Regions from separate parts of the Homo sapiens genome. Here regions 1 and 3 are each linked to region 2. The links come from fine-mapping of genetic effects on gene expression. A gene starts in region 2. Each other region holds a variant in brackets. All regions are shown on one strand. Distances are from middle to middle. Region 1 overlaps YWHAE (tyrosine 3-monooxygenase/tryptophan 5-monooxygenase activation protein epsilon). Region 2 holds the start of YWHAE (tyrosine 3-monooxygenase/tryptophan 5-monooxygenase activation protein epsilon). Region 3 overlaps YWHAE (tyrosine 3-monooxygenase/tryptophan 5-monooxygenase activation protein epsilon).

What was found. PIP is the estimated chance that this variant, and not a neighbour inherited with it, causes the effect. A credible set is the group of variants that fine-mapping cannot tell apart.
Region 1: its variant is the best candidate, but not a certain one, in a credible set for the expression of YWHAE in fibroblasts (GTEx, PIP 0.86).
Region 3: its variant is the best candidate, but not a certain one, in a credible set for the expression of YWHAE in whole blood (TOPMed, PIP 0.90).

Annotation. Positions count from the first base shown.
Region 1 is chr17:1,341,199-1,346,198 of GRCh38, reverse strand. It overlaps YWHAE (tyrosine 3-monooxygenase/tryptophan 5-monooxygenase activation protein epsilon), which reads left to right. Exons shown (of 6, transcript NM_006761.5): 6 at 700-1,924. The coding sequence ends at 752. Among named protein-coding and RNA genes, the nearest start is that of YWHAE, 57 kb to the left of the region's middle. The variant C/T (reference allele first, on the strand shown) is at 3,073.
Region 2 is chr17:1,394,575-1,405,018 of GRCh38, reverse strand. It overlaps YWHAE (tyrosine 3-monooxygenase/tryptophan 5-monooxygenase activation protein epsilon), which reads left to right and starts at 4,797. Exons shown (of 6, transcript NM_006761.5): 1 at 4,797-4,972. The coding sequence starts at 4,909. RefSeq lists enhancers at 2,125-2,740, 2,741-3,356, 4,299-4,936, 4,937-5,574, 5,575-6,212.
Region 3 is chr17:1,352,357-1,362,800 of GRCh38, reverse strand. It overlaps YWHAE (tyrosine 3-monooxygenase/tryptophan 5-monooxygenase activation protein epsilon), which reads left to right. Exons shown (of 6, transcript NM_006761.5): 3 at 793-899; 4 at 1,503-1,709; 5 at 8,454-8,590. Among named protein-coding and RNA genes, the nearest start is that of YWHAE, 43 kb to the left of the region's middle. The variant G/C (reference allele first, on the strand shown) is at 4,515.

The sequences.
Region 1 (5,000 bases), 56 kb after region 2:
GTGCAGTTGAAACTCCTTAGGGTAATCACCCTCTTTAAAGGCAAAAGACAAATAGCATGAGTGAAGTGGTCCAAATGCCATTCTTTAATAACCTCAGTGGTCTGATTTACTTTGAGCATGCTGTGTTTCACTCTGAAGTAAAATCTGATTATAGTTTGGTGTATCTGGCCAAGATACAAAAGCTGAAATATTTATAACAGCAGAACCCCACAATAAAATACGATAGAACTTCTTGGCAACAGTTTATTGCTCAGTTAACTATTTTGAAGCATTTCTGATAATTAGCTTGTGGGTAAATTAGATTTTGCAAAAAGTTTGCAAAATACTCTTGATTCTTGAAGAGGTGAGGTTATTGAGAAAGAGTATTTTGACCCAAGATTTATGTGAAAGCTTGAATGTCATTTTAGTAAGATGGTTTCCTTGGCTGTCTACGTCAAGAGCTTATTTAGCGTAAAAACATTGAGTTGTACTGCGCATCAGTTTTTTTCATTCTGTTGACCAATAAATACTTTCAGGACCATAATCCCTTCTTGGCTTAGGCATCTCAGGTGTCAAGGATGATAGAAGTCCTTTGCCTGCGTTTAATACCAATTGTAGCAAGTAGAAGAGTCTTTATGCTTGGAATGACACCTTTGTTTGTGGCTGCCATAGCCTAATGTAGTCAATACGAAATAATTGACTTTTTTTCTTTTTTAACAGGTGAAGAGCAGAATAAAGAAGCGCTGCAGGACGTGGAAGACGAAAATCAGTGAGACATAAGCCAACAAGAGAAACCATCTCTGACCACCCCCTCCTCCCCATCCCACCCTTTGGAAACTCCCCATTGTCACTGAGAACCACCAAATCTGACTTTTACATTTGGTCTCAGAATTTAGGTTCCTGCCCTGTTGGTTTTTTTTTTTTTTTTTTAAACAGTTTTCAAAAGTTCTTAAAGGCAAGAGTGAATTTCTGTGGATTTTACTGGTCCCAGCTTTTAGGTTCTTTAAGACACTAACAGGACTACATAGAGGCTTTTTCAGCATTACTGTGTCGTCTCCGTGCCAGATGTGGCAAGATCACCATTAGCAAATGGAAATTACATTTGAAAGCCATTAGACTTATAGGTGATGCAAGCATCTAAGAGAGAGGTTAATCACACTATAGAGGCATAAGTGGTATCAGTTTTCATTTTTCTAATTGTTTAAACTGTGTTTTATACCAGTGTTTGCAAGTAATTGGGTGTTAGCTTGAGATGGTTAAAGGTGGTTTGGGGAGGGACTTCGTTGTAATGGTTTTGCTGTAAAAAATGTTTCCAACTCCGCTGAAATGTTGCTGAAAAGCATGGTGCTGGTAACAGTTCAACAATCCGTGGCTGCTCATTCTTGCCTACTTTACTCTCCCACTGAAGCAGGTTAGCGTTGAAGGTGGTATGGAAAAGCCTGCATGCCTGTTCAATTCTTTTGTTTCTTCTCCTTCCCCCTCCCCCTACCTCCTTCCCCTCACTCCTCCCCTCCTTCGCTCGCTCAACCTCTTTTGTTCAGTATGTGTAACTTGAAGCTAATTTGTACTACTGGATATCTGACTGGAGCCACAGATACAGAATCTGTATTGTTCTTACTGAAACACAGCATGGAATTAACATTAAACTTAAATAAAACAAACCTAAATTAAAAATGCCAAATATCGCGCCTCCATCCTTTATACTTCTAAAATAAAATCTCTAGTCCAAACACACTGACAGTATTATGTTTGCCTGAATGTGAAACATTCCTCCTTTTTTCTTCCATAAATAATTTGTTTGCTTCCCAAAGATGTATGTTTTGGAAAAAAATTGCCTGTAGTCTGGTTGTGAAGAACACTGAGTCAGTTGATGGTGTGTCTTGTCCTCCAGACCAGGCAGCAACATGGTATTTATTTTAATCATTAAAGTACAACATGAGTAGTACAAGGTGTAATTATGGATCATTTTCTAGCATAGTATTTCATACAACCAAATAAGGCTGAATGTCTTATAATAATTCTTAGAGGTAAAAACTGTGTGCCCTCTTCCTCCAGAGGCTAGTGGCAGTAGTGGAGAATTACTCAATCCTTTCTTAGTAATCCATACACACATTATAGACAGCAGGATAGCAGTCTCCCTTTCCAGAAACACTGTATAAGAAGCTTCTTTCCATAAACAGTTTATACATCAATGTGTATAGATACCTAGTTACTGTAGATCTTTTTATGTTAGGCATTCAGATGTGTCTCATTCTGACTGCGTAACATTGATGTACACCTGATTTTGTTAAGACCAGTTTGCTCCTTTTGGGCAGGTGCTGCAGGAAATACCCTTGGAACAGTTTTTGCTTAAATATTTGTATGTATCTGGAAGGTACATTTCTAGATTCCCTGTGTCAGTAAACATTTTTCAGTTGATAAATCCTTCCTCGTCACACTTGTCTTCTAAAATTGGATGTTGAGACTGCAAGTTTACTCTCGGTTTAAAGTGTTAGTAGCAGAGATTTAGGAAATGAACAGATCAGCGATATCCTAGTAGCGTTTAGTGAGTGCTGGCAATGAGAATAAACATGTTTTTGTGAGTTGCTTTTCCGAGAGATAGGGAGACCATTGAATATAATTATATGCTGCTGTTTGGAGCAACCTCCAAGAAGCTTTCAAGTTGATTTGCTCTGTTTCCAGCACACCTGCTACACTTAAAGGTCAAAATCCAAGGAATTCGTCAAGTCTGTTGCAGAGTTTAAAGAAACCACTCGGCTGGGTGCGGTGGCTCACACCTGTAATCCCTGCAATTTGAGAGGCCGAGGCGGGCGGATCACGAGGTCAGGAGATTGAGACCATCCTGGCTAACACGGTGAAACTCCGTCTCTACTAAAAGTACAAAAAATTAGCCAGGCATGGTGGCGCACGCCTGTACTCCCAGCTACTCGGGAGGCTGAGGCAGGAGAATCGCTTGAACCCGGGAGGCAGAGGTTGCAGTGAGCCGAGATCACGCTACTGCACTCCAGCCTGGGCGACAGAGTGAGACTGTCTCAAAAAAAAAAAAAAGGAAAGATCCTTATCAAAAATTGAAAGGCCGGGTGCGGTGGCTCA[C/T]GCCTGTAATCCCAGCACTTTCGGAGGCCGTGGTGGGTGGATCACGAGGTCAGCAGTTAAGAGACCAGCCTGGACAACATGGGGAAACCCTGTCTCTACTAAAAATACAAAAAAATTAGCCAGGCGTGGTGGCGGGCGACCTTGCTGGGTGTAATTAACATCCAGTGACTTGGGAGGCCTGAGGCAGGACAATCGCTGGAAACTGGAAGGCGGAGCTTGCAGTGAGCCAAGATCGCGCCACTGCACTCTAATCTGGGCAATAAGAGCAGAACTCCGTCTCAAAAAAAAAAAAAAAAAAAAAAAATTGAAAGGGAGCCAGGGAAGCTGCAGAAAGGTGCCGTAGCCCTGTGAGGACGGTGTCACTCCCAGTTCCTGTATTTGTGGGCTGGAAAGGGAATTGCCCCCAAACTTTTCTGGTTTTGATTTGAGTCTTACTTTGAGGATCAGTCGACTTAAGTAGAAGTTTTTAGTTAGTTACAACTTGAATGTAGCTAATATGTGTTTTTAATTACAAATCTCAGTACTTTGCTGCCTTGGAAAACCCAAAGGCTTCCTACAATGTTAGAAGCGACAGTAAGTGGGTTTGTGTACATGCTCTGTTCCGGGTGGGTCCTCAGAACAGCACGTCTGCAAAGTTAAATTTCGGTCCTATAGGAAGATGGGGATGAACTTCCATCACTGAAAGGGGAAACTGGTGGGATAAATGGAGACATTAATTGGCTTCTGTCCCAGACAAATGCCTTGAGCCTTATAAATGAGACCCCAAATTAGCTGCTTCCTGATCCTAGGACAATAGAGGAGAGTGAGGCTTGCTGAAAAAGCGGGATAAAGGTGTGACCCCTGTGTTCTTTTGAAAATTGTAACAAGTAATAGTTCATGGAAAACTGGTGAAATCCTAGAGTGTGTCATTAAAGGAAGCCTTTGTGAGCACTGTGAGAGGAAATGGGAATGCTCCCAGATCCAACCTGGATCAGGAAAACCAAGCCCTGTGTTGTTTTATCCTGTTTCTTTGAGTTCGTAGGATTGTAATAGATACTGTTAATATTTAGCTAACATTGGCCGGGCGCGGTGGCTCACGCCTGTAATCCCAGCACTTTGGGAGGCCGACGTGGGCGGATCACGAGGTCAGGAGATCGAGACCATCCTGGCTGACACGGTGAAATCCCGTCTCTACTAAAAAATACAAAAAATTAGCCGGGTGTGGTGGCGGGCGCCTGTAGTCCCAGCTACTCGGGAGGCTGAGGCCGGAGAATGGCGTGAACCCGGGAGGCGGAGCTTGCAGTGAGCCGAGATCGCAGCACTGCACTCCAGCCTGAGCGACAGAGCGAGATTCTTGTCTCAAAAAAAAAATAATAATAGTTTTGCTAACATTGCGTACCAGCTTTGCACCAGGCACTGTGCTCGTTACTAAGCAATGTCTGGAATCTCACACGTAAGCGCTCAATAATAATCAGGTGAGCCTGCATTGTGCAGATGGGAAAAGCTGAATGGGAAGTAGTTAAGGAACTTGCTGAAAGCTGCATGGCTAATAATTCAAATACAGAATTCAGTTCATCTGTGTCACTGAAGAGTCTCATTAGGCCATACTACCTTTTGCTCTTCATTAAAACTATTTTCTTGAAATACTATATTCCCCCTTATTAATATATTCTAAAGTGATCATTTAAAGTATTTAAACTTTTTTTTTTTTTTTTTTTTTTGGAGACAGAGTCTCTCTCTGTCACCCAGGCTGGAGTGCAGTGGTGCAACCTCGGCTCACTGCAAGCTCCGCCTCCCGGGTTCACACCATTGTCCTGCCTCAGCCTCCAGAGTAGCTGAGACTACAGGCGCCCGCCACCAGGCCCGGCTAATTTTTTGTATTTTTAGTAGAGACCGGGTTTCACCGTGTTAGCCAGGATGGTCTCGATCTCCTGACCTCGTGATCCGCC
Region 2 (10,444 bases):
CACCATTTCGAAACTCCTTTTGAAGGTCACTAATGACCTAATCGCTATATCCAATGGCTTTCCCTCAGTGCTAATCTGACTTATGTCTCTGCAGAATTTAATACGACTGACACCTCCTTTTATTCTTTTTTTTTTTTTTGATATGGAGTCTCACTCTGTCACCCAGGCTGAGGTGCAGTGGCGCAATCTCAGCTCACCACAACTTCCGCCTCCCAGGTTCAAGTGATTCTCCGGCCTCAGCCTCCTCAGTAGCTGGGATTACAGCCGCGTGCCACCATGCCCAGCTACTTTTTGTATTTTTGGTAGACACAGGGTTTCACCATTTTGGTCAGGCTGGTCTCAAACTCCTGACCTCATTATCTGCCCGCCTTGGCCTCCCAAAGTGCTGGGATTACAGGCGTGAGCCACTGTGCCCGGCCAACAGCTTCCCTTCTATTTGGAATGCGTGTCCCCTTTTACAACTCCTTCGTGGTCATTTTTACCTGGGTGATCCTTGGGTACCTGCGGATCCCTGATCCTCTGAACCAACATGTGCTAAAAGAACTTTGTCTTTCTCTGCATTCCATCAGCAAGTGTTCCTAGCATTCCCATTTTTTGTTAATATTCTCAGGGTGGAAAGATGGAAAGTCAATTTTTATTATAAGATCTTCAATCTGGGCCAGGTGCGGTGGCTCACGCTGGTAATCCCAGCACTTTGGGAGGCTGAGGTGGGAGGATCACCTGAGGTCGGAGTTCAAGACCAGCCTGGCTAATACGGTGAAACCCTGTCTCTACTAAAAATACAAAAATTAGCTGGGCATGGTGGGGCACACCTGTAATCCCAGCTACTTGGGGGGCTGAGACAGGAGAATCGCTCGAACCTGGGAGACAGAAGTTGTGGTGAGCCGAGATTGTGACATTGCACTCCAGCCTGGGCGACAGAGCGAGACTGTCTCAAAATTAAAAAAAAAAAAAAAGCCCTCTCCCTCTCCCTCTCCCTCTCCCCACAGTCTCCCTCTCCCTCTCTTTCCACGGTCTCCCTCTGATGCCGAGCCGAAGCTGGACTGTACTGCTGCCATCTCGGCTCACTGCAACCTCCCTGCCTGATTCTCCTGCCTCAGCCTGCCGAGTGCCTGCGATTGCAGGCGCGCGCTGCCATGCCTGACTGGTTTTCGTATTTTTTTGGTGGAGACGGGGTTTCGCTGTGTTGGCCGGGCTGGTCTCCAGCTCCTAACCGCGAGTGATCTGCCAGCCTCGGCCTCCCGAGGTGCCGGGATTGCAGACGGAGTCTGGTTCACTCAGTGCTCAGTGGTGCCCAGGCTGGAGTGCAGTGGCGTGATCTCGGCTCGCTACAACCTCCACCTCCCAGCCGCCTGCCTTGGCCCCTCAAAGTGCCGAGATTGCAGCCTCTGCCCGGCTGCCACCCTGTCTGGGAAGTGAGGAGCGTCTCTGCCTGGCCGCCCATCGTCTGGGATGTGAGGAGCCCCTCTGCCTGGCTGCCCAGTCTGGAAAATGAGGAGCGTCTCTGCCCGGCCGCCATCCCATCTAGGAAGTGAGGAGCGTCTCTGCCCGGCCGCCCATCGTCTGGGAGGTGAGGAGCGTCTCTGCCCGGCCGCCCCGTCTGAGAAGTGAGGAGCCCCTCCACCCGGCAGCCGCCCCGTCAGAGAAGTGAGGAGCCCCTCCGCCCGGCAGCCACCCCATCTGGGAAGTGAGGAGCGTCTCCGCCCGGCAGCCACCCCGTCCGGGAGGGAGGTGGGGGGGTCAGCCCCCCGCCCGGCCAGCCGCCCCGTCCGGGAGGTGAGGGGCGCATCTGCCCGGCCGCCCCTACTGGGAAGTGAGGAGCCCCTCTGCCCGGCCGCCACCCCGTCTGGGAGGTGTGCCCAGCAGCTCATTGAGAACGGGCCATGATGACAATGGCGGTTTTGTGGAATAGAAAGGGGGGAAAGGTGGGGAAAAGATTGAGAGGTTGGATGCTTGCCGTGTCTGTGTAGAAAGAGGTAGACATGGGAGACTTCTCATTTTGTTCTGTACTAAGAAAACTTCTTCTGCCTTGGGATCCTGTTGATCTGTGACCTTACCCCCAACCCTGTGCTCTCTGAAACATGTGCTGTGTCCACTCAGGGTTAAATGGATTAAGGGCGGTGCAAGATGTGCTTTGTTAAACAGATGCTTGAAGGCAGCATGCTCGTTAAGAGTCATCACCACTCCCTAATCTCAAGTACCCAGGGACACAAACACTGCGGAAGGCCTCAGGGTCCTCTGCCTAGGAAAACCAGAGACCCTTGTTCACATGTTTATCTGCTGACCTTCCCTCCACTATTGTCCTATGACCCTGCCAAATCCCCCTCTGCGAGAAACACCCAAGAATGATCAATTTAAAAAAAAAAACAAAAAAAACACAAAAAAAACATTATATTATCGACTATACCTTAAATTATAATAAAATGTTATATATGTAATGGTAAAAAAAAAAAAAAGAGCTGCAATCTGATCAGCTGCTTGTGGCTTCCCTCTATAGTGCTATTCCTATTTATCCTTTCCTTTCTATTTTCATTGCTCCCACGTATTACGTTTGGTTATCCTCCTCTTTAATCATTGCTATGGAATATTTGTTAATATTTCTGAAATATAACTATGATGACATCATCCTCCACGCAAAATCATACAGCTCCCTTGGCCACAAAATAGGATGCAAGATTGGGTGCGTTGGTGCAAGCCTGTAGTTTCCCAACTACTTGGGAGGCCAAGGTGGGATTGCTTGAACTCAGTTTAAGGCCAGTCTGTGCAACGTGGCAAGATCCCTCCCTCTCCCCACTTTATTTTTTGAGACAGGGTCTCGCTCTGTTACCCAGGCTGGAGTCCACTGGTGCAATCACAGTTCACTGCAGCCTCAACCTCCTGGACTCAGGAGATCCTCCTGCTTCAGCCTCTGAAACTGCTAAGATATGGCTCAGGCCTGTCATCCCAGCACTTTGGGAGGCCGAGGTGGGCAGATCACGAGGTCAGGAGATCGAGGCCACCCTGGCTAACATGGTGAAACCCCGTCTCTATTAAAAATACAAAAAATTGGCCGGGTGTGGTGGCATGTGCCCGTAGTCTCAGCTACTTGGGAGGCTGAAGCAGGAGAATTGCTTCAACCCGGGAGGTGGAGGTTGCAGTGAGCCGAGATCACGACACTGCACTCCAGCCTGGGCAACAGAGCGAGATGCCGACTCAAATAAAAAAAAAAAAAAACGTTTTTATAGACATGGAGTCTCGCTATGTTGCCCAGGCTGGGCTCAAGTCATCCTTCCGCATGGGCCTCCCAAGCGCCAGAAGCTGAAGCAATGTTCACTGAGTTATTCCTGCCTCCACAATCTTTATTTGATCTTGGTCCAACTCTTCTGTACCATGTACTCCACACCACCCTCATCTAACAAATTCCCTGCTCCTATTCATAGTGGGCCTAGGGAGGGAAAAAGGTTAAACAGGAGAAGACAAAGATCAGTGTGAGGGGAAAGTTGAGGCGTGAAAACTGGAGCTCCCCTGTCCCTGACAACTGTAACAGGGCCCAGTTCGTTTTTTTTCTTTTTCTTTGTTTTGAGACAGAGTTGTGCTCTTGTTGCCCAGGCTGGAGTGCAATGGTGTGCTCTCGGTTCACTGCACCCTCCCACTCCCGGGTTCAAGCGATTCTCCTGCCTCAGCCTCTGGAGTAGCTGGGATTACAGGCATGCACCACCACGCCCAGCTAATTTTTGTATATATATATAATTTTTCTTTTGAAACACAGTCTCACACTGTCGCCTGGGCTGGAGTGCAATGGGAGGATCTCGGCTCACTGTAACCTCCGCCTCCCGGGTTCAAGAGATTCTCCTGCCTCAGCCTCCTGAGTAGCTGGGATGACAGGCATGCACCACCATGCCAAGCTAATTTTTTGTATTTTTAGTAGAGACGGGGTTTCACTATATTGGCCAGGCTGGTCTCGAACTCCTGACCTTGTGATCCTCCCGCCTTGGCCTCCCAAAGTGCTGGGATGACAGGCATGAGCCGCCGCGCCCGGCCAGGGCCCGGTTCGTTACCCTGAGTCTAAAAGTGTCTGAAAAAGGCCCATGACCAGGCTTGGCCGAGAAAACTAGGACGTGGGCTGGGCGCGGTGGCTCACCCCTGGAATCCCAGCGCTTTGGGAGGCCGAGGGGGGGCGGATCATCTGAGGTCGGGAGTTCGAGACCAGCCTGGCCAACATGGTGAAACCCCATCTCTATTAAAAATACAAAAGCTGGGGGTGGTGGCGGGGGCCTGAAATCCCAGCTACTCGAGAGGCTGAGGCAGCAGAATCACTTGAACCCGGGAAGGCGGACGTTGTGGTAACCCGAGATCGCACCACTGCACTCCAGCCTGGGGAACAAGAGGGAAACTCCGTCTCAAAAAGAAAAAAGAAAAAAGAAAAAAGAAAAGAAAACCAGGGCGCGGTAGTGACAGCCTCAGATTTCGGGAAAGAAGACCTGCCATGACAGAAACCGTTACAGCCTCCGTCGTTCTTTTCCGCAGGTCGGGCCTCGGGCCCCGGTCTGACCCAGGTCTCTCGCTGGCTTTTTTCAGGAGCAGTCCCGGCCGGCCCCGCCTCAGCCCTTCTCGTTCCCCGGGGGCCGCTCCCTTTCGGCAGTCGCAGTTCCCGCCTCTGGGCTCCGGCGCCCGCTGAGCCGACAGAGGAGAGGCGTCTCGTGCGCTCGTTCCAGCCGCTTCGGGCGCCGAGTTCCAGGACCCGCCCCCCGCGCCAGTTGCCAGGGAGCGGTTGCCATAGAGCTGAGCAGTTGTCCGCGTGCGCAGGCGGAAGTCCCGGATTGAGGCGCCGCCATTTTTGCTGCCCGGACGCGGAGCGAGAGGCTGAGAGAGTCGGAGACACTATCCGCTTCCATCCGTCGCGCAGACCCTGCCGGAGCCGCTGCCGCTATGGATGATCGAGAGGATCTGGTGTACCAGGCGAAGCTGGCCGAGCAGGCTGAGCGATACGACGGTGAGTTGGGGGGGCAACGGGGGGCTGGAATTCTCGGACCCTCTGCCGCCGCCCACAGAGGCCGGGAACAGGAGACAAAATGGCGGCATCGTCTGCGAGCCTGGCCCGGGGGCTTGGGTTCGGGAAGCAGGAAATGGCCTGGGAGCTCCCGGGGCGATGGGAGGCTCTATGCCCTGGAATGTGACCCCTTCGCCGTCCTTAACTGCAAACAACTCGCGGGCCGGGAGGCCGGGGCGACGGGGTGGAGGAGTTGGTTGTAAAATGGCGGCTGGGGGGAGGGCGAGTCCCGGGGCGGGGGAGGGGGAGGAGATGGCGGGTGCTGTCTCCGAACGAGCCACCCTCATGGGAGCTTCTGGGACGGCCTTGGGATGTGGAGAACAATTGGGTGGGGTGACGGGGGAAGCAGCACCCGCCACATGGGAGAGAGCGAAGACCGGGAGCTGTAGCGCGGGCGCCTTTCAGGGAAATATGGCGGGTGGGGGCGGTGGCTTTTCCCCGGAGGCCCCGTGTGGGGCGGCGGCCGTGGAGTCTCACAAAGGAGGACCTTTGAGAGCGATGGGCTTCCTCAGGCCTGAGGTGGGGGACAGTCGTGGATGATGGTGGGGGGAGAGGGGTGAGTGGGAATCACTGCAGTTCGTCTTCGGGCGGTGGCAGGCTCCCATGCTGCGATCGGGTTTCTTTCCCGTAGGCCGGCACCTCGTAGTGAGGGGTTTCGGGGCTTTTCCTCCTCGTCGTCTTCTGGGGAGGCCCAGAAAATCCTCACTCCCTCCCTTTCCTCAGACTTAAAACAGGAGATCTCGAAGTTCCTGTAACCTTTCTCTGGCTCCATCACCCGTGGGTTCTGATGGATAGAACCAGGAGGCCACGACTCTGAGAGTTCGAGCCTTTGTAGAGCCCGAGCCTCCGTCCCCCCGTTTGTAAAAACGATGACTTTACAGTTTGTGCGCACCGTGATGACAAATGGGAAGACCTGTTGAAATAAAGTTATTTCCAATAGTGTTCAGTAACTGTATTTTGGTTGACTCTGCAGGCTCGGAATGCTGGTCTGTACTTCGTGGGGGATCTTAACCTATTCCAGGCGCTCGGCTGAGGCTGGGTTTTTTGAGTTATGAAGGTTGAAGATCCTGTTGCTTTCTTTTTTTCCGTTTTAAATAAATGGGTTTATGTAGAAATATTAGTAGGTCCTCTTTGTTCGTTGTTCTTTTGCCCCTAATGGGTTCTCCAGTCCTTTTTCAGAACTTCATCGAATGTCCATTGTGTCTGTCCAGTCATTGTCAGGAAGTTTATTCTTAATCCTCTCTCCCAGTCCACCTTTTGGACCACCTTTTGAAATACCCACACATTTATAATTGTGCGATACTGTAGTATTAAACGAAAGGTCATGTCTGTGGGTCCTGTGGTTTTAATGCTTTTGCGTGGTAGGGTGGGGTGAGACATGGTTGGAATCAAGTATCTTTGATTCTTAGATTTTTTTCCTAATTAAAATACCTATATTTCAAAATGTTAGGGCCCTTGCTTTCCTCGAAATGCGGATTTAGTCATGTGAATAACCTCAGGGTTAGTCCCCCTTATCATCAGAAATAAGATTCAGGGATTTGAAAATAAGACAAGGCCTCTAGAACTCATATTTAGGAAATATAGTGAACTAAATTTCGTCTTGTAAATTCTTAAATTGCTATTTGTATTCAACAAGGTTCCTGTTGGGGGGGGGGATAAGATGGGGAAGTACAGCTCAAGGTCTGCTTTGTCTTTATTTCAGTGTTTAAAAATCAAAGAGATATGAATGTGCTTGTATTGGAAGTCTCCTCCTCCGCCCCCTCATCTCCAGATGTTCCCCTCTTAATCTGTTAGTGTTCTTGGGAGGAAACAAATTGTACTTGAATGCTTTCTATTTTGTGGGTATTGGGGCTTTTTAAGTAAACTTGCTGTGATAACTAGAAAGGATGTGAGGAAAGGTCTTTTTCTTTTTGAAAGCTCCTTTAAAAAACTGATTTGAAAGCTTGTGATTGTAGTTTCCAAATAAAGTACAGGTTAGTGATAATTATATTTTTGATGTGAGTGGTGAGGATTTCTGACCAGAGCCCTTATTGGTTATTGAACATGGGACTCTGATACAGCCACATTATTACAGTTGTTAATGTTAGGTGTCCCCTTCAGGATCTAAAGGGGTAAGGAAATAGGATCTACAAGGTGAGGAGCTATTGCTGTGACTTGGGGCATAAGGTAGGGACTCAGTGGAAAGGAGAGGAGGAGGAGGAGACAGAAACCAGGAATTTCTACCTGTGTCCTCTACCTGTGTCCATTCCTTTATTGAGTGCGGTATTTTTTTGTTTCTGGTGGCAAAGTTTTCCCGGAGTTCTGGTCACCAAACAGAACTTAGCAGGTGTCGGGGGTGGAAGAAGGTAAGACAGTGTATTGGCAGGATTTCTTTGTTGGGTACTTGTACCCAAATGCTGGGTTTCCAGCTGCCCTTTTATCTCTCTGTTACTGCAGCAGGCTTATTTTATTTTGCTTGCTGTGTTGAATTAGTGCCTAAACTTCTTTGTATCCTCATTTAATTCTATCCTGGGGCGTTGGAATCAATTTATATGGATTATTTAACAGTACGGGAGGAAGAGCTAACCTGTGTTCAGGAAAATGACAATTTTGGGTCACAGGAAATATTTAAGTTTGGGGCTGGGAGTTGAAGATTAAATCTAGCATCTCATCACTTTAACAAGCCAGTAGTCTATTCGAATCGTTTTTACCTCCTTTGAAACCATATTAAGCAAGTCCATTATTTCTTAGCATTTCTCAAACAGCTCTTACTGTCCCGTATATGAAATAGTACAAGAAAGTGGGGAAGAAAGGCCGGGCGGGGTGGCTCACGCCTGTAATCCCAGCACCTTGGGAGGTCGAGGCGGGTGGATCACCTGAGGTCGGGAGTTCAAGACCAGCCTGGCCAACATGGTGAAACCCTGTCTCTACAAAAATAAAAAAATTATCCGGGCATAGCTACTGAGGAGGTTGAGGTGGAAGAATCACTTGAACCCGGGAGGTGAAGGTTGTAGTGAACCAGGATTATGGCATTACACTACAGCCTGGGCAACAGAGCGAGACTCTTGTCTCCAAAAAAAAAAAAAAGAGGCCAGGTGCGGTGGCTCATGCCTGTAATCCCAGTACTTTGGGAGGCCAAGGCGGGTGGATCACCTGAAGTCAGAAGTTCGAGACCAGCCTGACCAACATGGAGAAACCCCGTCTGTAGTAAAAATACAAAATTAGCCGGGGGTGGTGGGTGCCTGTAATCCCAGCTACTTGGGAGGCGGAGGCAGGAGAATCACTTGAACCCGGGAGGCCGAGGTTGCGGTGAGCCGAGATTGCGCCATTGCACTCCATCCTGGGCAACAGCAACAATAAAAAACGGGGAATATAGAGGGGAAAAGTTTACCCGTTTTTGGGGAGCAGAGGGGTAACATAAACTACATTTGGGCTTGTGGGGCTGTTGTTGGTTTTGTCCTTTCCTAGTCTCTTCCCTATCAAGATTGGCTTCATGGAAGGTAGGATGAAGTTTTGATGGTCATGTTGGATTCCCTAGGAATGCATCTGTTGAGTCATTTACTTGAGAGCTGTCTTTTTTTTCTTTTGAGACGGAGTCTCGCTCTGTCTCCCAGGCTTTATTGAAGTGGCACAATCTCGGCCCACTGCAACCTCCGCCTCCAGGGTTCAAGCGATTCTCCTGCCTCACCCTCCCGAGTAGCTGGGACTACAGGCATGTGCCACCATGCCATGCTAATTTTGTATTTCTTTTTTAGTAGAGACACGGTTTCTCCATGTTGGTCAGGCTGGTCTCGAACTCCCGACCTCAGGTGATCCGCCCACCTCAGTCTCCCAAAGTGCTGACATTAAGGACCTGAGCCACCGCGCCTGGTCAAGAGCTGTCTTTTTTTTGAGACGGAGTCTTGCTCTTGTCGCCCAGGCTGTAGTGCAATAGCGCGATCTCGGCTCACTGCAACCTCCATCCCCTGGGTTCAAGCGATTCTCCTGCCTCAGCCTCCAAGAGTAGCTGGGATTACAGGCATCCGCCACTATGCCAGGCTAATTTTGTATTTTTAGTAGAGATGGGGTTTCGCCATGTTGGCCAGGCTGATCTCGAACTCCTGACCTCAGGTGATCCGCCCGCCTCGGCCTCCCAGAGTGCTGGGGTTACAGGCGTGAGCCACTGAGCCCGCTGAGAGCTGTCCTTTTAAAACACCAGATCCTCATCTCTAGCTAGCTTATTCTGCTAGTTAGTGAAGAACAGGGAAGGGAGCATGTGTGGAATGAACTTTTTACTACGGTCTTGTTAGGAAAAAAATAGGTAGTAGTAAATTAACGTTGTTAATAAGTTTAGAAGTATTTAGATTAACTACCAGTTCTTTGACTGTAGGCCAGTAATTTTCCATTGCCGTTTCAGTTAATGGACTAACTTTCTGGAGTAAAGTTTATTTTTCTCCTTCTTAAATGCATAGACAGAACTGAGTAACGTAGTGTTAAAAATCCCTTCTACGACTGGGCTCTGTCCCCCAGGCTGGAGTGCAATGGCGTGGTCTTGGCTCACTGCAACCTCCGCCTCCCAGGTTCAAGCGGTTCTCCTGGCTCAGCCTCCCAAGTAGCTGGGACTACAGGCGCGTGCCACCACACTCGGCTAATTTTTTGTATTTTTAGTAGAGACGAGGTTTCACCATGTTGGCCAGGATGGTCTTTATCTCCTGATCTCAGGTGATCTGCCCACCTCAGCCTCCCAAACTGCTGGGATTACAGGTGTGAGCCACCGCACCCAGCCAATTTTTGTGTTTTTGGTAGAGACAGGGTTTTACCATGTTTGCCAGGCTGGTCTTGAACTCCTGACCTCAGGTGATCTGCCTGCCTCGGCCTCCCAAAGTGTTGGAATTACAGGCGTGAGCCACCACACCCGGCCTGATTGTTTTTTTTTTTCATGGATGACTGTAAGGGTGACTGATACTGCAGGCATATTTTTTCTTTATATTTCAAGAACACTGTGTACACAAACAGTAATGACAAGCATGGAGTAAAGGCTGCAGTTTTATTTTTATTTATTTTTTTGAGACAGTCTTGCTCTGTCACCTAGGGTGGAGTGTAGTGGTAGGATCTCGGCTCACTGCAGCCTCTGCCCCCTGGGTTCAAGCGATTCTCCTGCCTCTGCTTCCCGAGTAGCTGGGACTACAGGCGCCCGCCATCGCACCTGGCTAATTTTTGTATTTTTAGTAGAGATGGGGTTTCACCATGTTTGCCAGGCTGATCTCTGACTCCTGACCTCAGGTGATCCTCCCGCCTCAGCCTCCCAAAGGGCTAGCATTACAGGTATGAGCCACTGTACCTGGCCTAAATTTTTAATTTTTTAATGGGCACATATTAGGTGTATGTATTTATGGGAAGGCTAAATTAAAAAAAAATTTTTTTTTGAAACAGGGTCTTGCTTTGTGACCCAGGCTG
Region 3 (10,444 bases), 42 kb after region 2:
TTGGGATAAGGATGTGATTATAGAAGAAAAAGAGAGAATTTTCTGCAGTGAAACGGAGGTTCCAGGGGCACGGAGAGGACCCTCATGAAAGGTTCAGCAGTAGTGCTGCATGAGTTAATAGCAAACAGGAAGCAAGCTGAGGATGTGCGTTGAGAGGTGGTGTGCGTGTTCAGCATGATCAGTGGATAGAGATGGGTGGCAGTAGCTACTTTGGTAGATAGGTTTTCGGTGTTTTAATAGTTACGGATCTCTGCCACTAAAGGAATTGCCTGGTGAATGTTGTTAAGGATGTGAGTGCTGAAGGCAAACTGCCTGGGTTTAAATTTTGATTCTGTCCCTTGCAGCCTGCCTGGGTTCAAATCCTAGCTCTGCTTATTAAATTCTTATTTAATTGTTGATCTTAGAGCAATGTCTTTACGTTGCTACCTTGTGAAAGAAGGTAATTCATGTAATTGACCAGCATTTACCAAGAAGCATCAGTGTTCAGTTTTAGTCATTGGTAATTCTGTAGCTGTACTGTGGTACTGTGAAGGGGGTGTGGGGGCTGGCGTGTGTGCGTGCCTGCATGTGTGTGTGTAACAATAGGCAGCATGCAGAAGGGAAAAGATACTTTTTATAACCTAGAGGCAGCTTTTCTCTGCTTTTGTGTCAAGAAGGAAGAAGGGAGTTTGGAGAGGGATACAAATTCTTTTTAATACTAAGCTCTCTACCTCAAAACCAGAGATAGAATATGTAATAATTTGTAGAATTTCTAGACTTAATCTGATTTAAAAAAAATTTTTTTTTTTTTAGGTTGAGACTGAGCTAAAGTTAATCTGTTGTGACATTCTGGATGTACTGGACAAACACCTCATTCCAGCAGCTAACACTGGCGAGTCCAAGGTTTTCTATTATAAAATGTAGGTTCTATACTAGAAGGGAAAATGTAAGATTGAAAGTTGGTCCTTTTAGAACCATAACTTTGTTCTATGTAGGTTTTCAACTTTTATTTAAGAATAATTGTTCAATGTTAGAAGGATAGTTAATATTGTAATGAAAAGGTGGTTGGGCTATTATGAAAATGTATTAGCTTTTGCTTATTTATATTCTTTTGTTTTTGTGAGACCTATCCCATTCCCCTCCCCCAAACGGCATACATTTCACAGTGCTTAGTGTTATATATAGACATTTTATTTTATGATTAATAAACTGTCATGCCATTCCTTGGAACCACTTGCTTGTTTAATTCTGGTCTATCAGGTGATAATTTTATTAATTTTTAGAGGCTCCTCAGTTAATTTCCTGGGATTTTTGCTTATATTTAGTAATATGAAATGTCTAAGGAAAAAAATGAAACGAAGCCAGTTATTCCTGAGAGTGTTTAAAATTATTGAAGTACACCTAATTGTTACATATATTTTTGTCACATTTTATATAATATAGAACAATTTTAGCTTATTTTCCTTTAAAAATCGTTCCTAGTTTAAATTTTTTTTTTTTTTTTAATTTTGGTTTTGTTTTAGGAAAGGGGACTACCACAGGTATCTGGCAGAATTTGCCACAGGAAACGACAGGAAGGAGGCTGCGGAGAACAGCCTAGTGGCTTATAAAGCTGCTAGTGATATTGCAATGACAGAACTTCCACCAACGCATCCTATTCGCTTAGGTCTTGCTCTCAATTTTTCCGTATTCTACTACGAAATTCTTAATTCCCCTGACCGTGCCTGCAGGTAAGTTGTGGGGAAGAACAGCAGCGCTCAGCGTGAAAGTTAAGGGGGGCGCTGTTTGGGTTTTCCGTGTTGTTTCTTGGGCCTGTCTTTGTAGACTTGGCTGCATAGTAATTCTTTTGGCTCTTACTGAAACTACTTTGGATAGTATTAAAACAGACCTGTCTCAACCCACTAGCATAGCAGTCAGCATAATTATTTTGATGTGGGATATTTTTGTTGCTGGTAGATTGAAATCTAACATGTTAAAATGAGTAGAGGAAGGAAATGAGAGGAATTAGAATTATTTTAATTTTTGTTATATTAGTTTTCAGTCTTTTTTTAAATTTGAGACCATGTCTCACTCTGTCTCCCAGGCTAGAGTGCAGTGGCGCCATCTCAGATCACTGCAGCCTTCACCTCCTGGGTTCAAGTGATTCTCCTGTCTCAGCCTCCTGAGTAACTGGAGTTACAGGGGCCTGCCACCATGCCCAACTAATTTTTTTTGTATTTTTAGTAGAGACGGTGTTTTCACCATTTTGGCTAGGCTGGTCTGGAACTCCTGACCTCAAGTGATCCGCCCGCCTTCGCCTCCCAAAGTGCTGAGATTACAAGCATGAGTCACCACACCCAGCCAGTGTTCTGTTTCTATGGGCATGTTTTTAATAGTTACTCTCGTAGCAAACATAATTTTATATTTTCTGTTTTAGCATAAACAAGTTTCAGTCTTACTAATGTGTGTTAAACTGTTCCCCCATTTATACTTCAGCTTGTTCCCAGTTTTTGATAATGTAGATAAATATGTAAGGAATATTTATACGTACATAACTTTTTACTTTTAAAAAGTTGTGATAGCCTGGGTGCAGTGGCTCACGCCTGTAATCCCAGCACTTTGGGAGGCTGAGGTGGGTGGGTCACCTGAGATCAGGAGTTCGATACCAACCTGACCAACATGGTGAAACTCTGTCTCTATTAAAAATACAAAATTAGCCGGGTGTGGTGGTGCATGCCTGCAATCCCAGTTACTCGGGAGGCTGAGACAGGAGAATTGTTTGAACCCAGGAGGCAGAGGTTGCGGTGAGCCTCGATTGCACCAGTACACTGTAGCCTGGGTGACACAGTGAGACTTTTTTTCAAATCTCTCTCTCTCTCTCTCCCCCTCTCTCCCCCCCTCCCCCTCCTCCCCCCCTCCCCCTCCCCGTCTCCCTCTCTCTCCCCGTCTCCCTCTCCCTCTCGCCTGGGCGACAAAGCGAGACTTTTACACACACACACACACACACACACACACACACACACACACACAACAATTTAGTGGCACCGAATACATTGACAGTGTTGTGTAATCACCACTATTTGAAAACTTTCTCTTCACCCCACACAAAGCGAATTATAGCCATTAAACAATCAATAACTTCATTTCCCCTCTCCCTAGCTGCTAGTAACTTTTATTTTACGTTGTCACTATGAATTTGGCCCATTCTAGATACCTCATGTAAGTGGGATCATATAATATTTGTCCTTTTGTGGCTGTCTTTATTTCATCTAGCGTAATGTTTTTATCCATGTAAAAGCATGGATCAGAGCTTCAGTCCTTTTAGTGACTGAATTTACACAATTCATTTTATGTATTTTGCACACATTGTTTAGTCATTAAACTTTTGGTGGTCAGTGGGTTTCCACCTTTTCCCTATGGTGAGTACAATGCTGCTATGAAAATGGGTGCACTAAGTATTTGCTTGAGTCCTTGTATTTAACTTCACCTTGAGGTGGAATTGGGACTGAAAATTCTGTGGGTAACTTTTTTTTCCGGACAGGATCTTGTTCTGTCTCTGCAGTTGTGCACTCATAGCTCACTGCAGCCTTGGCTTCCTGGGCTCAGCCGATTCGCCTACCTGAGCCTTCCAAGTAGCTGTCACTAGAGGTGGATGCCACCATACCTGGCCTTTTCTTTTCCTTTTTTTTTTCTTTTTTCTTTTTTTTGAGGGAGAGCCTGGCACTGTCACCCAGGCTGGAGTGCAGTGGCGTGATCTTGGCCCACTGCAACCTCTGCCTTCCAGGTTCAAGCGATTCTCCTGCCTCAGCATCCAAAGTAGCTGGGATTATAGGCGCCTGCCACCATGCCTGGCTAATTTTTTGTATTTTTAGTAGGGATGGGGTTTCACAGTGTTGGCCAGGCTAGTCTCGAACTCCTGACCTCGTGTGATCTGCCCGCCTCGGCCTCCCAAAGTTCTGGGATTACAGGTGTGAGCCACTGTGCTTGGCCAGCCCTTTTTTTTTTTTTTTTTTAAGATGGAGTCTCGCTCTGCTGGCCAGGCTGGAGTACAGTGGTGCGATCGCAGCTCACTGCAACCTCCACCTCCCAGATTCAAGCGATTCTGGTGCTTCAGCCTCTCAAGTAGCTGGGATTACAGGCATGTGCCACCATGCTTGGCTAATTTTTGGGGGCATTTTTAGTAGAGACGAGGTTTCACTATCTTGGTTAGGCTGGTCTCAAACTCCTGACCTCAGCCTCCCTCCCAAAGTGCTGGGATTACAGGCATGAGCCACTGCGCCCGGCCAATTTTTAAATTTTTTTTGGGCTGCGTGCAGTGGCTCACGCCTGTAATCCCAGCACTTTGGGAGGCCGAGGAGGGCAGATCACGAGGTCAGGAGATCGAGACCATCGTGGCTAACGTGGTGAAACCCCGTCTCTACTAAAAATACAAAAAATCAGCCGGGCGTGGTGGCGGGCGCCTGTAGTCCCAGCTACTCGGGAGGCTGAGGCAGGAGAATGGCGTGAACCTGGGAGGCGGAACTTGCAGTGAGCCAAGATCACGCCACTGCACTCCA[G/C]CCTGGGCGACAGAGCGAGACTCCGTCTCAAAAAAAAAATTTTTTTTTGTTGTTTTGTTTTGTAGAGGCAGGGTCTGGCTGTGTTGCCGAAGCTGGTCTTGAAATCCTGGCCTCAAGTAATCCTCTTGCCTTAGCCTCCCAAAATGCTGAGAATACAGGCCTGAGCCACTGCACCAGGCCCTTTTGCCCATTTTTGAATTCATGTTTTTTTCGTTTGTTAAGTGTTGAGAGTTCATTATTCCAGATAGTAACCTCTTAGCAAGTAAATGGTTTGTGAGTATTTTCTCCTCTTCTGTAGGTTGGCATTTTGTTGTTGTTGTTGTTTTTTGCTATTGTCTTTTTCTTTTTTTTTTTCCCCCGAGAGGAGAGTCTCGCTGTGTTTCCCAGGCTGGAGTGCAGTGGTGCAATCTCAGCTCACTGCAACCTCTGCCTCCCGGTTTCAAGCGATTCTCCTGCTTCAGCCTCCCAGGTAGCTGGGATTACAGACGCCCGCCACCATACCCAGCTAATTTTTGTATTTTTATGTAGAGATGGGTTTTCACAGTGTTGGCCAGGCTGGTCTTGGACACCTCACCTTAAGTGATCCAGCCACCTCGGCCTCCCAAAGTGCCGAGATTACAGGCGTGAGCCACTGCACCCAGCCTATTTTAAATTTTTACAGTAAATATTGCAGTAGCAAAATGGTTTTTTTGCTTTTTTTTTTTATTTTGACGGAGTCTCACTCTGCTGCTGTGGCTGGAGTACAGTGGCGTGATCTCAGCTCACTGAAAGCTCAGCCTCCTGGGTTCAGGCGATTCTCTCGCCTCAGCCTCCCAAGTAGCTGGTACTACAGGCACCCGCCACCACGCCCGGTTAATTTTTTGTATTTTTTTTTTTTTTTTTTTGAGACGGAGTCTCGCTATGTCCCCCAGGCTGGAGTGCAGTAGCGCGATCTCGGCTCACTGCAAGCTCTGCCTCCCGGGTTCACGCCATTCTCCTGCCTCAGCCTCCCGAGTAGCTGGGACTACAGGCGCCCGCCACCACGCCCGGCTAATTTTTGGTATTTTTAGTAGAGATGGGGTTTCACCGTGTTAGCCAGGATGGTCTCGATCTCCTGACCTCGTGATCCACCCGCCTCGGCCTCCCAAAGTGCTGGGATTACAGGTGTGAGCCACCGCGCCCGGCCTATTTTTTGTATTTTTAATAGAGATGGGGTTTCCCTGTGTTAGCCAGGATGGTCTCGATCTCCTGACCTCGTGATCTGCCCTCCTCGGCCTCCCAAAGTGCTGGGATTACAGGCGTGAGCCACCGCGCCCGGCCCCTTTTGGTTTTTGTATGTGTTTTTTTTTGGTTTGTTTGAGGACAACTGCTTAAGCAAAGTAGGGTTTTTAAGTGAAAGCCTTTCAAAGTTTGAGGAAAGGGGATTAACTGATACATTGGAACTTTAATGTTGACTATTATAGGCATGCTTCACTGCGCTTGACTGAATTTTTTTTTTTTTTTGCATTTTTAGTAGAGACAGGTTTTCACCATCTTGGTCAGGCTGGTCTCGAACTCCTGACCTCAGGTGATCCACCTGCCTCAGCCTCCCAGAGTGCTGGGATTACAGGCGTGAGCCACTGCGCCCAGCCAATGTAAAAACATTCTAAATGGCTAGTTGAGTTTGTCCAGATAGGGATCGTAACTGAAGAAGCTGTGGCTATTTAGCTAATACTGGTGGTTGCACCTTTCCTTGTCAGACTCCAGTCTAGCTGTCCCACGTGTAGCTCCAGTTTAAAGTCACTCGCATGCCTTTGCTCATGCTTCTGCTTAAACCTGAAGTGTGTTTTGTTTTCTCCTTATCCATTGAGATTAGTTCAAATTTGACTTTCCCTTTAATTGCTCCTCCTTCTGGGTCCCTGAAATACTTTATTTGGAATAGCACTTCATTCTTCTTCTTCTTTTGTTTTTGTGCTCTCTTGCCCAGGCTGGAGTGCATTGGCACAGTTTCACCTCACTGCAACCTCCGCCTCCCAGGTTCAAGGGATTCTTCTGCCTCAGCCTCCTGAGTAGCTGGGATTACAGGCATACGCCACCATGCCCGGCTAATTTTGTGTGTGTGTGTGTGTGTGTGTGTGTGTGTGTGTGTGTGTGTGTTTTTAGACGGAGTCTTGCTCTGTTGCCCAGGCTGGACTGCAGTGGCGTGATCTCGGCTCACTGCAGGCTCCGCCTCCTGGGTTCACACCATTCTCCTGCCTCATCCTCCCAAGTAGCTGGGACTACAGGCACCTGCCACTGCTCCCGGCTAATTTTTTTGTATTTTTAGTAGAGACGGGGTTTCACTGTGTTAGCCAGGATGGTCTCGATCTCCTAACCACGTGATCCGCCCGCTTCTGCCTCCCAAAGTGCTGGGATTACAGGCTTGAGCCACTGCACCCGGCCTAATTTTTTGTGTTTTTAATAGGTTTTGCCATGGTGGCCCGGCTGGTCTTGAACTCCTGGCCTCAAGTGATCTGCGCGCACGCATCAGCCACCCAAAGTGTGCTGATTACAGGCATGAGCCACCACAGCCAGCCTCCTCCTTGTAAAATAGTTATGTATTTGTCTACCCTCCATTTCTAAATTTTTAAGTTGATGTGGACTTAGATTATGTCTCTTTTTTTTCTATTGGTATATCGTATCGTTTGTTGGACATAGTACACAGTACTCAGTAAGTGTGGATTTTCTTTTAAAACTGTAAATGGCTTACATAATCACATTTCCATGGCGTCTGTGTTGCCTTTTATTTTCTTTGCTTCCCTGCCTCCATTAACGTGAAATTAAATTTTTTTAAACTTTGAGGTATTGTCCAAGATTTTCTTTTTGCATTAATACTTTGTTAAATATCTCAACCTTGTAATCCAGCACTTTGGGAGGCTGAGGCGGGCACATCACGAGGTCAGAAGATCAAGACCATCCTGGCTAACACGGTGAAACCCTGCCTCTGCTAAAAATATAAAAACAAATCAGCCGGGTGTGGTGGCGGGCGCCTGTAGTCCCGGCTACTCGGGAGGCTGAGGCAGGATAATGGTGTGAACCCAGGAGGCGGAGCTTGCATTTAGCCTACATCCCGCCACTGCACTCCAGCCTGGGTGATAGAGCGAGACCCCGTCCCCCAAAAAAAAAAAAAAAAAAAAAAAATTTTTTTTTTTTTTTTTTTTTTTTTTTTTTTTAAAAAATCTTGGGGGTGGTAGTGTGTACCGTTTGTCCCAGCCACTCAAGAGGCTAAGGTTCGGAAGATTGCTTGAACGCAGGAGTTCAAGTCCAGCCTGGGCAACATAACGAATCCCTTAAAAAAAAAAAAAAAAAAAAAAAAAAAAAAAAACTAGGCTGGGCGCGGTGGCTCACGCCTGTAATCCCAGCACTTTGGGATGCTGAGGCTGGTGGATCACGAGGTCAGGAGATCGAGACCATCCTGGCTAACACGGTGAAACCCCATCTCTACTAAAAATACAAAAAATTAGCCGGGTGTGGTGGCGGGCGCCTGTAGTCCCAGCCATTCGGGAGGCTGAGGCAGGAGAATGGCATGAACCTGAGAGGCGAAGCTTGCAGTGAGCCGAGATCACGCCACTGCACTCCAGCCTGGGCGACAGAGCCAGACTCCGTCTTAAAAACAAACAAACAAAACTTTTTGAAATAAGTGAACTATTGCCTAGAACTTGGAGGTATATTTTTTGGTGATGGTTTAGGATGGAAGTTGTTCTATGTATTTTATTAGTCGATATGTATATTATAGCATATCAGTAGCAGGCTTAAAGCATAGTAAGAAGTAGTGTTCCACATACCTTTAAGTTAATTTTTATTGTATTTGCTTTTTCTTTGCATTATCATTGTGACTATTACAAACTGGAATAACTGAAGAAAAGATTGCTGTCTAGCATGTCATTTCTAATTCTGATTTTGGACTTAATTTTTATAACACTTCTATTGAAATACCTTTAGGTTGGCAAAAGCAGCTTTTGATGATGCAATTGCAGAACTGGATACGCTGAGTGAAGAAAGCTATAAGGACTCTACACTTATCATGCAGTTGTTACGTGATAATCTGACACTATGGACTTCAGACATGCAGGGTGACGGTAAGCAAGCACGGAGTGAAACAGGCACCTCTTTCAGTTGCAGGATTTGTTTGTACTCTCTTTAGACATTCCTTGGCTTGTCGTTATATCAAGCTAGAATTTAGATTCACCGCCTGCCCTCTATGAAATTGTAATTGCTGCCTTTATAGGAAATGGTGCTACAGTACGGAGTTCCATTTTGGGAACTTAGTTTAGCTCTTCCTTTACACTGTTTCAAAGGTTGAGGACAGGAGGAGTGGAGAGCAAGCAGTTTATTTTATCTTCATTCAATTCAATTTTAGGGGGCTGAAGTTAAGTGTATTTAAATCCAGATGGTATCAGTAGGTATTTATGAAGTTTTTCTCTTTGTTGAAATATTTTATCTAAAAGGGAACTGGTTTCCCATTTCCCTCTGGGATTCTGTAGAGAAATTGAATGTTGGCCCTTGGGTCTCTTTTTTTTTTTTTTGAGACGGAGTCTTGCTGCGACACCCAGGCTGGAGTGCGGTGGCTCAATCTCGGCTTACTGCAAACTCTGCCTCCCGGGTTCAAGCGATTCTCCTGCCTCAGCTTCCCAGGGTAGCTGGGGTTGCAGGCACCCGTTATCACGACTACCTAGTTTTTGTATTTTTAGTAGAGACGGGATTTCTCCATGTTGGTCAGGCTGGTCTTGAACTCCTGACCTCAGGTGTTCTGCCCGCCTCAGCCTCCCAAAGTGCAGGGATTACAGGCGTTAGCCACTGCGCCCTGCTGTTTTTATTCTTTTCTTTTCTTTTCTTTTCTTTTTTTTTTTTTGAGATGGAGTCTCGCTCTGTTGACCGGGCTGGAGTGCAGTGGCGCGATCTTGGCTCACTGCAAGCTCCGTCTCCTGGGTTTACACCATTCTCCCACCTCAGTCTCCCGAGTAGCTGGGACTACAGGTGCCTGCCACCACGCCTGGCTAGTTTTTTGTATTTTTAGTAAAGATGGAGTTTCACTGTGTTAGCCAGGTTGGCCTCGATCTCCTAACCTTGTGATCCACCCGCCTCGGCCTCCCAAAGTGCTGGGATTACAGGCGCAAGCCACCGTGCCCGGCCTGTTTTTATTCTTAAGAGGTTTTCATTGCAAACGCTTCAGAGTATTTTAGTAAACTTAATTGTGATGTTGAGTGTGTGTTAATGTTTACTTTAAATACAGGAGCCCAAATTTGTTATGTTTGTTGATTTTAAAGGAAATTTTATTCTCTGTCTAGAGAATCATTTTGATCCATGGTAGATTGTTGAACAGGGATGGAGAAGAGGACAAATTAGTGTGATAGGAGTATTACAGGATAGTTTTACATTTGGTGGTGGTGGTGCTGGTAGGAGGTTGTAAACAAAGTCTGATGTCAGTTTTAGCTGCGGTTCCTTTAAGAATGTTTCTAAGGCTGTGCCGGGCGCGGTGGCTCATGCCTATAATCCCAGCACTTTGGGACGCCATGGCGGGTGGATCACGCGGTCAGGAGATCGAGACCATCCTGGCTAACACGGGGAAACCCCGTCCCTACTAAGTATACAAAAAATTGGCTGGGCGTGGTGGCGGGCTCCTGTAGTCCCAGCTACTCAGGAGGCTGAGGCCGGAGAATTGCTTAAACCCAGGAGGCGGAGGTTGCAGTGAGCTGAGAGATACGCCATTGCACTCCAACCTGGGCTACAGAGGAAGACTCCATCTAAAAAAAAAAAAAAGAGATAACGTTTCTTAGGCTGAAACATAAAACATATGTCGCGTTGCTTGAGGCTATCTGTAGTTTCTTTTGGGGAAACGGACCTGCTGTATTGTCTTTGGAAGTGTTATACTTTTTGAAAATGCTTCTGAAAGTGGGCACGTATGTGTCTTTTCTCTGGAAGGATCAAATCAG